Linked DNA regions of Homo sapiens: region 1 is linked to region 2. The links come from fine-mapping of genetic effects on gene expression. A gene starts in region 2. The other region holds a variant in brackets. All regions are shown on one strand. Distances are from middle to middle.

Region 1 (5,369 bases), 32 kb before region 2:
AATTTACTGAGTTATTGTCCTCTCTTCTGTGTAGCCCTCTCTTAACATGAATGTGGCAAAATTGCTAGGAAGAAATGGTAGGATGTATTTCCACTAGGTAGGTCTCTTTCTCCACAGCGGCCATCTTTGATTATTGTGTCTGGAATCGAGCAGTACCCAACCAACATGGTGCCCTTCCTCAGGCTCTTCCTTGGCGGGAAGACAGAGGCAGCAGTTGAGCAAGGGGAGCCAACAGAAGTGGAATGGCTCCTCATTCATAGACCCTTGTGGGTTTTGAAGGAGAGAGGAAAGAGAAGGTTTGGAAAGAATAGGACAGAAAGGGAGGAATAAGAAAGAGGAAGTTGGCCGGGCGCGGTGGCTCACGCCTGTAATCCCAGCACTTTGGGAAGCCGAGACGGGTGGATCACGAGGTCAGGAGACCGAGACCATCCTGGCTAACACGGTGAAACCCCGTCTCTACTAAAAATACAAAAAAATTAGCCGGGCGTGGTGGCGGGCGCCTGTAGTCCCAGCTACTCAGCTGGCTGAGGCAGGAGAATGGCGTGAACCCGGGAGACGGAGCTTGCAGTGAGCGAAGATTGCGCCACTGCACCCCAGCCTGGGTGACAGAGCAAGACTCCGTCTCAAAAAAAAAAAAAAAAGAAAGAGAGAAGAAGTTGAAAGGGGTGTTTACAAGTGGAGGAATAGAAATAAAGCTATGAATTGAATAATAGAAACTCTGATTTTTAAAATTTTATTTTATTTATTTTTTATTTTAATAGTTTTATGTTACGTAAACCATTATATGTTATTTTTAAATATATGAAAATAAATATATTTAATGGTTTGTTATTGTAAAATGACACGTTTGTTGTTAAAATTTCAAATAGTACTGGAGAGTTTCAAGTGAAACATACATGTCAAAATCATCTAGAATAACAGTTACTTGTGTGTCCTTGCAAACTTATTCCGTGCATATATAAGCATCTGTGTGCTTTTGATACACAAATGAGATCATACAATACATACTGGCCCATTCCTTGCCCATTTTTTTCAACTTACCAATAACTCTGCAGTTTTCTAGTTTCTACTCAAAGAGATATCCTTCATTCTTCTTAATGGCTGCATATCATCCCCTTGTGTAGATGCACCATGATGTGTGGAACCCATCCCTTGTTAATGGACATTTAGGTAAAATAGAAAGTCTAGCACCACACTATCCAATAGAAATATAATGTGGGCCACAAATGCCAGCCACTTATGGAATTTTGAATTTTGTCTTAGTAGCTACATTCCCCTCCCCAGCTGATTTGAAATGCCACCTTTATTATATCCTAAATGCTCATATATACATAAGTTTGTTTTGAACTATTTTATTTCATTCATCTATTTGCCAATTTTGGCACCAGTATCCCCTTGTGTAGGAATTTTTTTTTTTTTTTTTTTTTTGAGACGGAGTCTCACTCTGTCACCCAGGCTGGAGTGCAGTGGTGCATTCTCGGCTCACTGCAACCTCTGCCTCCCGGGTTCAAGCAATTCTCCTGCCTCAGCCTCCTGAGTAGCTGGGATTACAGGCCCCCACCACCACACCTGGCTAATTTTTTATTTGTATTTTTAGTAGAGATGGGATTTCACCATATTGGTCAGGCTGGTCTCAAACTCCTGACCGCATGATCCACCCACCTCAGCCTCCCAAAGTGCTGGGATTGCAGGCGTGAGCCGCCACGCCGGCCACCAGTATCCCCATTTCTAGTAGCCACATTTAAAAAGTAAAAAGAAAAAGGTGAAATTAATTTTAATAATATATTTAATTTACTCCAATATATCAAAAATAGTGTCTTACAATGTAATCAAATATTAAAAATTATTAATGGGATACTTTACATTCTTTGTTTCATATTCAGTCTTTGAAATCTGGTGTATGTTTTACACATCCAGCACATTTCAGTTCAGACTGCCAATTTCAAGAGCTTAAGAGCCACATGTGGCTTCTGGCTACCGTATTGAACAGTGGAAGTTGAGCAGGCAGAGAGATTCAAAATGTCACCTGAGCTGTGTGTCTCTGTGGTTGGTAGGAATGGATTAGAAGGTCAGACATTGAGGACAAAATCCTCAACTTCACCACTCAAGGCAACTCATGAAGCTTCTCAGGGTCTTGGTTTGTGGACTCCAATAAATTCAACGTATGCTGGTTGAGTGCAGACCAGAACAGCCGAGCCAAGTACAGTCAGGCCTCGCTTCACAATGGGGATACGCTACGAGAGAAATGCGTCATTAGGTGATTTCCTCATTGTGCAAACATCATAGAGTGTACTTACACAGACCTAGATAGTGTAGCCTGCTGCACACCTAGGCTATATGGTACAGCCTATGGCTCCAAGGCTACAAACCCATACAGCACGTGACTGTGCTGAATACTACAGGCAGTTGTAACACGATGGTACTTATCTGTGTATCTAAACATAACTAAACCTAGAAAAGATAGAGCAAAACTATGGTATCATCTAATGGGGCCACTGTCATATATGCAGTTGTCATATATGCAGTCCATTAAGCAGGGGTCCTCAACCCCTGGGCCATGGACCCGTACCAGTCCATGACCTGTTAAGAACTGGGTCACACAGCAGGAGGTGAGTGGCAGGCGGGCGAGCATTACCGCCTGAGCTCCACCTCCTGTCAGATCAGCAGC[G/A]GCATTAGATTCTCATAGGAGCAGGAACCCTACTGTGAGCTGTGCATGTGAGGGATCTCAATTACTTGCTCCTTATAAGAATCTAACTAATGCCTGATGATCTGAGGTGGAACAGTTTCATCCTGAATCCATGCCCCCACCCAAGTCCGTGGAGAAATTGTCTTCCACAAAACCAGTCCCTAGTGCCAAAAAGGTTGGGGACTGCTGTGTTAACTTACATGCCATTATGTGGCATATTGCTGTACAAATGGCCCTGGCCTTTCCACAAGCCGTAGCATGGCCACAGAGATATAGAAAGAGCCTGAGTGCTCACGAGGTGATTATCTGAGGTCTGTCACAGGTTCCCCTTTCTTTGCTTTCAGAGGCATCTCTGTTCACAGCGTCTCATCACACTCAAAACCCAATGCCTGTTTCCTTTTTTTTTTTTTTTTCAAAAGCAGAGTGTGTGGCAACGGGGCTCTGAGGAAATCCCTACCACTGTGGTTGGGGAGGGTGTGGTGTGAAGAACCCACATTGTGGCTTACTCAACTGTGAGATCTTAACTCTGTGGCCCCAGAGCCACTGTGCTCCTGGGCGGCAGTGGTGACAGCCATGGCGGCACAGCTTAGAGCCTGGAATGGTAAGCATGGGCTCAATTGCATCCTGCAAGAAGACTCGCATCAGGGTTTGAGCTCGGGGTTTGGTGTCTGGGTGGGTGTCGGCAGAATGGGAGGAGGCAGGTGGCTGGAGAGCACTGGGGACAGGTGGAGCAGCCAGTTTTGCCCTGGCCTGAGTCAGGCCAGGTTTGGGAAGCATTTGGACTCCACAGCAGGCTTGGGTGCTCGGCCCCTGGATTGACAGGAAGCTGAGAAATGTGATTATCTCCCACGGGACAACATGCTGTCCCCAAACAAAGGTGGCGGTCGCATGCCCACTGCCTAAGTTCTAAACGAGCCCTCCCCCAGCCTTTTCTCCCCAAGCTGGCCAGCTACAAGACCCAACCCCATGGTGGAGCCGAGGGTTCAGAGCAGCTAGGCACAGGAGAAAGGAATTTCCTCCTGTGGCTGCCTGGGAGGGAGCTCTTTTTCATCGGCCCCACCTGCCAGCTTCCCCATTACCAGGCCGAGGAGTGGAACACCAGCATTCCTTTTCCCTTCCTACTGCTGCCTCCTCCAGCCCTGCAGCCTAGAAACTCTCAGTGGTATCAGACTCCTGAAGCACCAGGCAACAGCCCAGCTTCTTTCTGCTTGGTCACACAAGCTGTGGCCTCCCAAATCATGCCTGGGCTAGGAAGACAGAGCAGTGTCACAGGAAATCTAAGTCCCATGCACATGGTGATCTCACCCCAGCCTCTACTGCTTCAGCCCCCTCCTGAGGCTGGCCAAAGCGTAGAAGCCCTGCTGATTAAGCCTCTTCCCTGAATGTTGGCAGCCTAGGCTCTGCACTAACTTAGCACCTAGTGCAGAGCCTGTCACGTGCATGGGAGCTACCCAGTAGCATTCTCTTGGACGGATAAATGCATGGGTGAATTAACATGCTTTGGATATTGTCTTTGTTGTACCTCCTCAGGGCTCCCAAAGCCTTAAAACTAGAACTTGTCACCTCATCACTTTAGAACCTTCTATTTGCAGGCATCTATGCACCTGCTGATCTCTCCCACTAAGAAAAGGTGACAAGAGAAACCAGCCAGGGGATTCCTGAGGGTAGTCTAGGAGTCTCGAAGCCTTGCAGTGGTCTTCCAGGCTGAATCATCCTACCTCGAGAACCAAGAGCATGAGAGTTGGCATCAGACAGACTTAGTTCAAGTCTCAACCCTGCTATTTCCTGTATATATAATCTTAGTCAAAAGTCATTTCACCACTCTTAAGATTTAGTACTCTACTCTGTAAAATGGGGCTAAAAATACCTACCCAGCATTATGGTGAGGAATAAATGAGAAAATGTGTTAGGTTGAATCCTATGAAACTGTCCAAAGCATTTAAATGCCAGCAAATTTGTATGGTTCAACCTAATATATAAAGTAGCCTTTATAAACTATAAAGTATAATAAATAGCCCTATATAAGTATTCATTATTCTTAACAGATATAATTTGTAAGTCACAGAATATTGTTTCTTGCAGTATTAGTAATCCCTTTCATCAGAATACAGGTCAAACTAACAGAAGAAGCCACTTATCTGACAATCGTGGGCTGCAGGCATTTCCTGGAGCATTTTGGCCTGGGAAATAGGGAGCAGGTATTTTTAGGAAACTAGACTGGTTCATGGAAAGCAATGGAGGTGAACACCAGGGTGACTCGTGACAGCTCCTACCTGGAAATGATTAACCCGCAAAAGCACAGTAGGAGTTGGCACATTCTCTTGCCCCAGATGGGAGTACCCACTCCCTAGCTCCAGTAGCAAAGCAGAGGCTGCCTAGGACAAACATTCCTTCCCGGGGGACAGAGCCAAAGGGTCCTAGGCCAGCAGACATCTGGAGGAAACTAAAAACAGCTTCTTGCCAACTTTTCCCTCCCTAGTGGCAGCTATCAAGCCCAGGTAGCTCCTCTTGACCTAGCAAAGTCCCACGCCTGGGAAAGCTTGGATTTGGAACTGATAGCTGCAGTGGCCACAGTGGAGGGAGTGGGGGAAGGTTCTCACCATATTATGCATCGCTCCCTCAATCCCAATCCTAGATGTAAAGGTCACTGGGATTTCAGGCCAGAGGGGACTGGGAAGAGTCC
Region 2 (5,369 bases):
GTTGCAAGATGGTCTGGAATTCTGCAGGTCTTCTTCAGGTTCTGCAGGTCTGAAACTCCCTGAAGTCCTGGTCAGCAAATGGGGCAGGTATGGCAGCAATAGCAGGGGCGGGGGATGCAAAAGAAGGGTGTGTTCTGGGTGGCCATCTGGCCCCAGCACTCAAACTCGAATTCGGCCACGAGCAGCTCGGTGGCCCCCCTGTCTCGGAGTGAGGCGGAAAAGCACAGGGGGGCGTCTTCGAACTTGGCGTTGTCCTAAACGACCTGTGCGGCGAATCAGTTGGGGGGAGCTGTAGAATGGTGAATTGGTGCCTGGAAGGCCTTCCAGAAGTGGGACTCGATTCTGGTTCCTCCGTCTGCTAGGCTGTATTATGGGAGGTGATGCACCCAGGAAGTTTTCGGCGTGGTAACCACTTGTGGGGCCAGAAGTCTGGGATGACGCGTGAACAAAGGTCGGCTCCATCTCCATCAGCTCATCTAGGTCATCATCTTGGGCCTCATCCAGTGGCTCCTCCTCCACCTCACCATAGGTCTCCTCAGTCCCTGGATCCTGCTGTGGCTCTCCTTCTGGTTTCTGGCCCCCATCCTCATCTTCATCTTCTTCATCCTTACTCTCTCCTTCCTCCTCATTCTTGTTCCTTATCTCCTCCTCCTCCTCTTTCTGTTTCATTTCCTCTTCCTCCTCCTCCTCCTTCTCTTCCTTCTTCTTCATTTCTTCCTCCTTCTTCATCTCCTCCTCCTCCTTCTCCTTCATCTCTTGCTGAAAAGCCCTCATGCGCTTCCTCTGGTCCTTGGAGTGAAGCCTGTGCCTGCGTGCCTCTTGGTCTTCATCTTCACTGTAGTACTCTTCATCTTCACTTTCTTCCTCATTGGGACTCGGAGCAAAAGGGAAGATGATATTTCGAACTCCAGGGAGCGGGATAGGCTTGGGAACGCGCACTTTTCTTTCTATCTCCACACATTCGAGAATCAGCTCATCCAGGTCGGCCATTTCTGTTGACCATAAGAGCTCTTTGCGGAAGAATTCCGACAGGCCTTTGAGGAATTGGTTTTGGAGGCGGCAGTCATCCCAAGACAAGAATTGGGCCAGGAACTGAAAAGCATCTGCATAGCTGCCGAGGGTACAGTGGCCCTGCTTGAGCTTGCGAATGGCCTTTTTAGCCACACGTGGGGGGATGGGGCCACAGAATTCCTTACGGATTTCATCCAGGAAGCGCGGGAAGTTGGCATGCAAGGGGCTTCCTTCCTGGGTGACCGAGATGGCCCAGTCCTTGGCTTCGCCAGTGAAAAAGGAGATCAGAAAGGCCACCCGCTCGGCGCCCCCGGGGAAATGAACCTCATGGTCGGCTATGAAGGTCTCTAGCTGCATCAGGAATTCAGCCAGGTAGACTGGGTCTCCTGAAAAGGGCTCTATCTCAGGCCGCTCCAGCGGTGCCAGAGGGGGTTGCGGGGGCGGTTCCTTTGACGCGGGCGGAGGCAGCGCCGGCGGGGGCGGGATGGGCAGCAGAGGGGGGTCAGCGGGCCCGTCGGGGGTGCTGCGATCCTGGATCACGTTAATCAAAAGATCATCCGAGATACAGTCGGGCTCCGCGCGTGGGGGAGGCCGGCACAAGAAGGGCAGTTCTCCCCCGGGAATGACTTCGATCTCACTGAGCGCGAACTCCAAGTTCTCCTCCGCAAGGACGGGCACTATGGGTACTGGCCAGCGGATGTAGCTGGAGACATTGCCCCGCAAGGAATTAACCTCGGCCAGGGCTCTCCCGAGCTGGAGGCCCAAATTGGCATTCTCCCCGCGAAGGGCATTTAATTCTTCGCGCAGGGCCACATTCGCCATGCGGAGGCTGTTGAGATTTCCTGACGCCTCAGACATCTCGACAAGCCCAGGGGCCCTGGGGCTCCGTGGTGGGGAAAGGGGAACTGGAACTACGGGCGGCCGGAGGAGGCCGAAATGCGGCGGCGGGGCTCGGGAGGGACCGAAGTGCGGCAGCGGGGCACGGGCCAGGCCGGGCCACACCCACCGGGGCGAGCTCGGAGGGCGGCGCTCTGGGCGGAGGGCCCGGCGGCTCGGCCCAGGGCGCGTTACCTCGTCGCCGGGGCCGGAGAGGGCGGGCGGAGGCACGGGGCCCGGAGGCGCCAGGCGGAGGATGCGGGCGACACGGTGGCGGCGGCGACCGCGCGACCGGGCGGGCGGGCGGGCAGGGGCGAGCGGAGCGGGAGGGAGCGGACTGCGGCAGGATCTGTCGAGGAAAAATCTTGCGGCCGGCGATTCCCCGCCTTTTAAGCGCAGCCTCGCACTCCCCCCACCCCACGCAGGGGCGGGCCTTGGGGAACCGCGGGCGCCCACTGGCCGCCGCGCGCCGCTCCCCTCCAGCTCGCCTGCGCCTCTCACTGACTCTCTCCTTCCCTAGCTGCAGCTAACTCGGGTCGGGAAAATGCGACAGCGACTGCCCACTCGAGGTCGTCATGGCGACAGCCAGTGAACGTGTTCCTCTCCTCGGGCAGGCCCCCGAGTGTAGAGGAGCTGCTTCGGGAGGCGCAGCTCAATCTCCAGAGCCTGTTGCAAGGTACCGAGAGGGAGGGGGGCTGCGGCCGGAGCCCAGAAGCGAGATGCGCAGCGGCAGGAGGGAGGCAAAGAAGAAAGAGGACAGGGACCAGCAAGATAAAGACAGAGAGTTTAAAAACAATCGACAAAGCAGTTTCCAGCTTTCACCTTTCAGCCTAATGATTCTGAAAGAGGCTATTTCCAGGGCTGTTTCCCCCCATCCCCAGCCCCTTTTTTCAGCTCAGTAGCCCATGGGGAAACAAGGACAGAGACTGAGGCAGGGCCATAAGTTATGCCATTCACCGAGAGCTGGGTGGGAGACTCCCACAATGTGGGCCTACATTCCCTCCAGCCCCCCTCTTGCCACATCGCCCATGCCTTTGGGATCCTGGCACCAGAAGACAAAGGGGGCATCTGCAGGATCTCCCACTCTGGGCTTCACTCACTCTGCTCTTGCAATAACCCCTGGATAGCTACTGCCTCACCAAAGTAAGCCCAATACACAGCACCCAGAGGTCACCTATTTTGTCCCCCCTAACCAAGCCTGAGCTTCTCGATGTAAAGAATCACATCTTGCTACCCTTAGGTTTCCAGAAGCACCTGGCACAAGGCTGGATTCCCTCCCCACCTGCCAAGAGGTGCTCAGTGGATGTTGAGCATGAAAAGAGGTCTTGTCAGCACTCCTTTATCTATACTAATAAAGGTTAACTCTAATGGCGAATAGAAAACTGCTGATGGGCCACCAACAGGATGACAGCCATAACCCCCACCCCCTACCAGGGCAGTGGTGACCTTGGAAAAGCAAGATGCCAAGGGACACCATGAGCCTTGTGTTCAGATAACAAAGGACTTGCCACACAGAAAAAGAGTCGATGTGCTCTGTGTTGCTACCATGGCAGAATTAGGACCAGTGGGTGGAAACCCAGAAGGAGGCACATTCCACCTCCAGATAAGGAAGAACTTTCTGACACACCTGACAGCCCCAACTGTCCGTGGAAGAAATGAGCTGCCTTGGGAGGGAGGGAGCTCCCCTTCCCTGCAGGTGTGTGCGCTGAGGCTGAAGAAACACCTAGAAGGGCTGCTGAGGAGGGAGTCTGGGCACAGAATGAGGCGTTGGACCAAAGAACCCCAAGAGCAACCCCAAATCTCTGTGATTCTGAGTCTTTGTTCAGTGTACATACAGCATGAATGTCCCTTCTCTACTCTCACTTTCTTCATGTATTCTCATCAAATTCATCACTTCAATCAACCCTATTCAAATCTTGTGCATCCTTACTCACTGATGATGCCGCTGAACTTCTGCCTCTTTTATGCTGTTACCTCCTCCTTCCCTCTCCTTCACCTTAGCCCTCCTAGACCTGACATCACTTACAGCGGGACTAAGGTGCAGGGAACACGGCCCACAAAGGCTCAAGTAAAAGTTCTTGACATCCAAGAAAGAACTCCAGATTGGACTTCCTGGTGTAAATCTCTTCTTGCTTCACACAGGTCATTTCCTTGGTAGGGTCGCAGAAAACCTTAAGAGCTGCAGGGCTTCAAAGAGAGGAACTTGCAGTCCAAAGTAGCAAAAGGTGTCTGCATTCTGAGCCTCTTTTCGTAACTGAGCACTCAAGGTGGGGATCATTGAGATAAGGGCTTGGTCCCCAAACCACCACAGCATGAATTTATTGACTTTCTCTTCTCCTCGATCCTCATGGTCCTGGGAAGCAAGCACTTTTCCATTTCCAAATCCAGTGGCTCAAACACCTGGAAATAGCCTAAAGAAAATGCAAGTCAGGCCTGGCAGCTAGAGCAGGAGTCCTGGCTCATGGCCCTTCCCCGGCCCAGCGCTCGGCCATGGCACCCTAGAGTGTGTGTCTCCACTGTGCTATTTTTCAGAAGAATATGAGGAACAGTACTCGGAGGCCAGACTTGTGGGGCAGACCTTCCGCTCTTCTGATGAGGCCACTAAGCCCACCCCCAACCCAAGGCCCCAGTCTGCCAGGCGTCTGGAGTTTATATTGATGGTGAGTTGCCTCATCCCCCACCTGGGAGAGCCAGCATGCACCCACTGACAAGAGACCTCCAGCTGCTTACTTTACCCACTGGAAGCTGCTCAGCCCTGCTCACCAGCAGAGCTACCCTGAGGCCCCACTGGGATAGGCCCTGCACAGCAGGTGCCTGGCCTGGTGGCCTGTCCACGCTTTCCTGCCTCCCAGACGAAGCCTCCAACTACCCAGCCTAAACAGCCACCCTATGGGCACTGGCTCATTGCCAGGCAGGAATACACCCTTTCCATCACCTTCTCTCCCAACAGCCTACAAAACGGCAGCTGAGCGAGGATGAGACTACCACCCAGGGTGTGAGGGCCCCCGAGGCCTCCCTGAGCCTGTCTACCACAGCCGACAAGCAAACTGCCTGGAATAGCCTTTTCCCTCTGCCCATCCTAGAGGAGAAGCGGTGGCCTCAGCTTTGCTCCACGCAGTCTGACATTGTGCCCATCAACATCTCTGGTAGAGTTGCTTAGCACCGCCTTTGTCTTCTTCCCTTCATGCCTCTACAGACCATCCTCTTTGATGCACTGGGTATTGGGGGAGGGAAGTGAGACTTTCTTTGCTACCGGCTCACCTTGCGCTGTCACGGTCATGGCTCTTGCCAGGGAACGGAGGCATGCAGAAGAGGGGGCGCTGGCTGCTCTTTCTTCACCCCCTCCTGGCACTGCCACCCTAACTGAGACCATTTGATAGCAAGCAAAATTTTCTTAACAGAAAGCTCCAAAGCCTTATGAACTTCTGTGCTCTTCAGAGCACTTATGGAAACTTAAAGTTTGTGAGTTCTGTTTGGGTCAG

Alleles and levels. Alleles are on the strand shown, and positions count from the first base shown. SD is a standard deviation of normalised expression in the study named.
As copies of G replace A in region 1, the expression in gastroesophageal junction of the gene that starts at base 2,244 in region 2 goes down (small effect, 0.23 SD a copy in GTEx).

What was found. PIP is the estimated chance that this variant, and not a neighbour inherited with it, causes the effect.
Region 1: its variant is fine-mapped to the expression of RTL5 in gastroesophageal junction (GTEx, PIP above 0.99).

What each region holds. Positions count from the first base shown.
Region 1 is chrX:72,097,956-72,103,324 of GRCh38, forward strand. All of the region lies in intron 1 of NHSL2 (NHS like 2), which reads left to right. Among named protein-coding and RNA genes, the nearest start is that of RTL5, 31 kb to the right of the region's middle. RefSeq lists a silencer at 3,162-3,281. The variant G/A (reference allele first, on the strand shown) is at 2,669.
Region 2 is chrX:72,129,672-72,135,040 of GRCh38, forward strand. It overlaps RTL5 (retrotransposon Gag like 5), which reads right to left and starts at 2,244. Exons shown (of 1, transcript NM_001405151.1): 1 at 1-2,244. The coding sequence starts at 1,869. The coding sequence ends at 160. NHSL2 (NHS like 2) reads left to right here. Exons shown (of 8, transcript NM_001013627.3): 2 at 2,408-2,563; 3 at 4,420-4,547; 4 at 4,838-5,033. RefSeq lists silencers at 2,035-2,104, 2,265-2,324.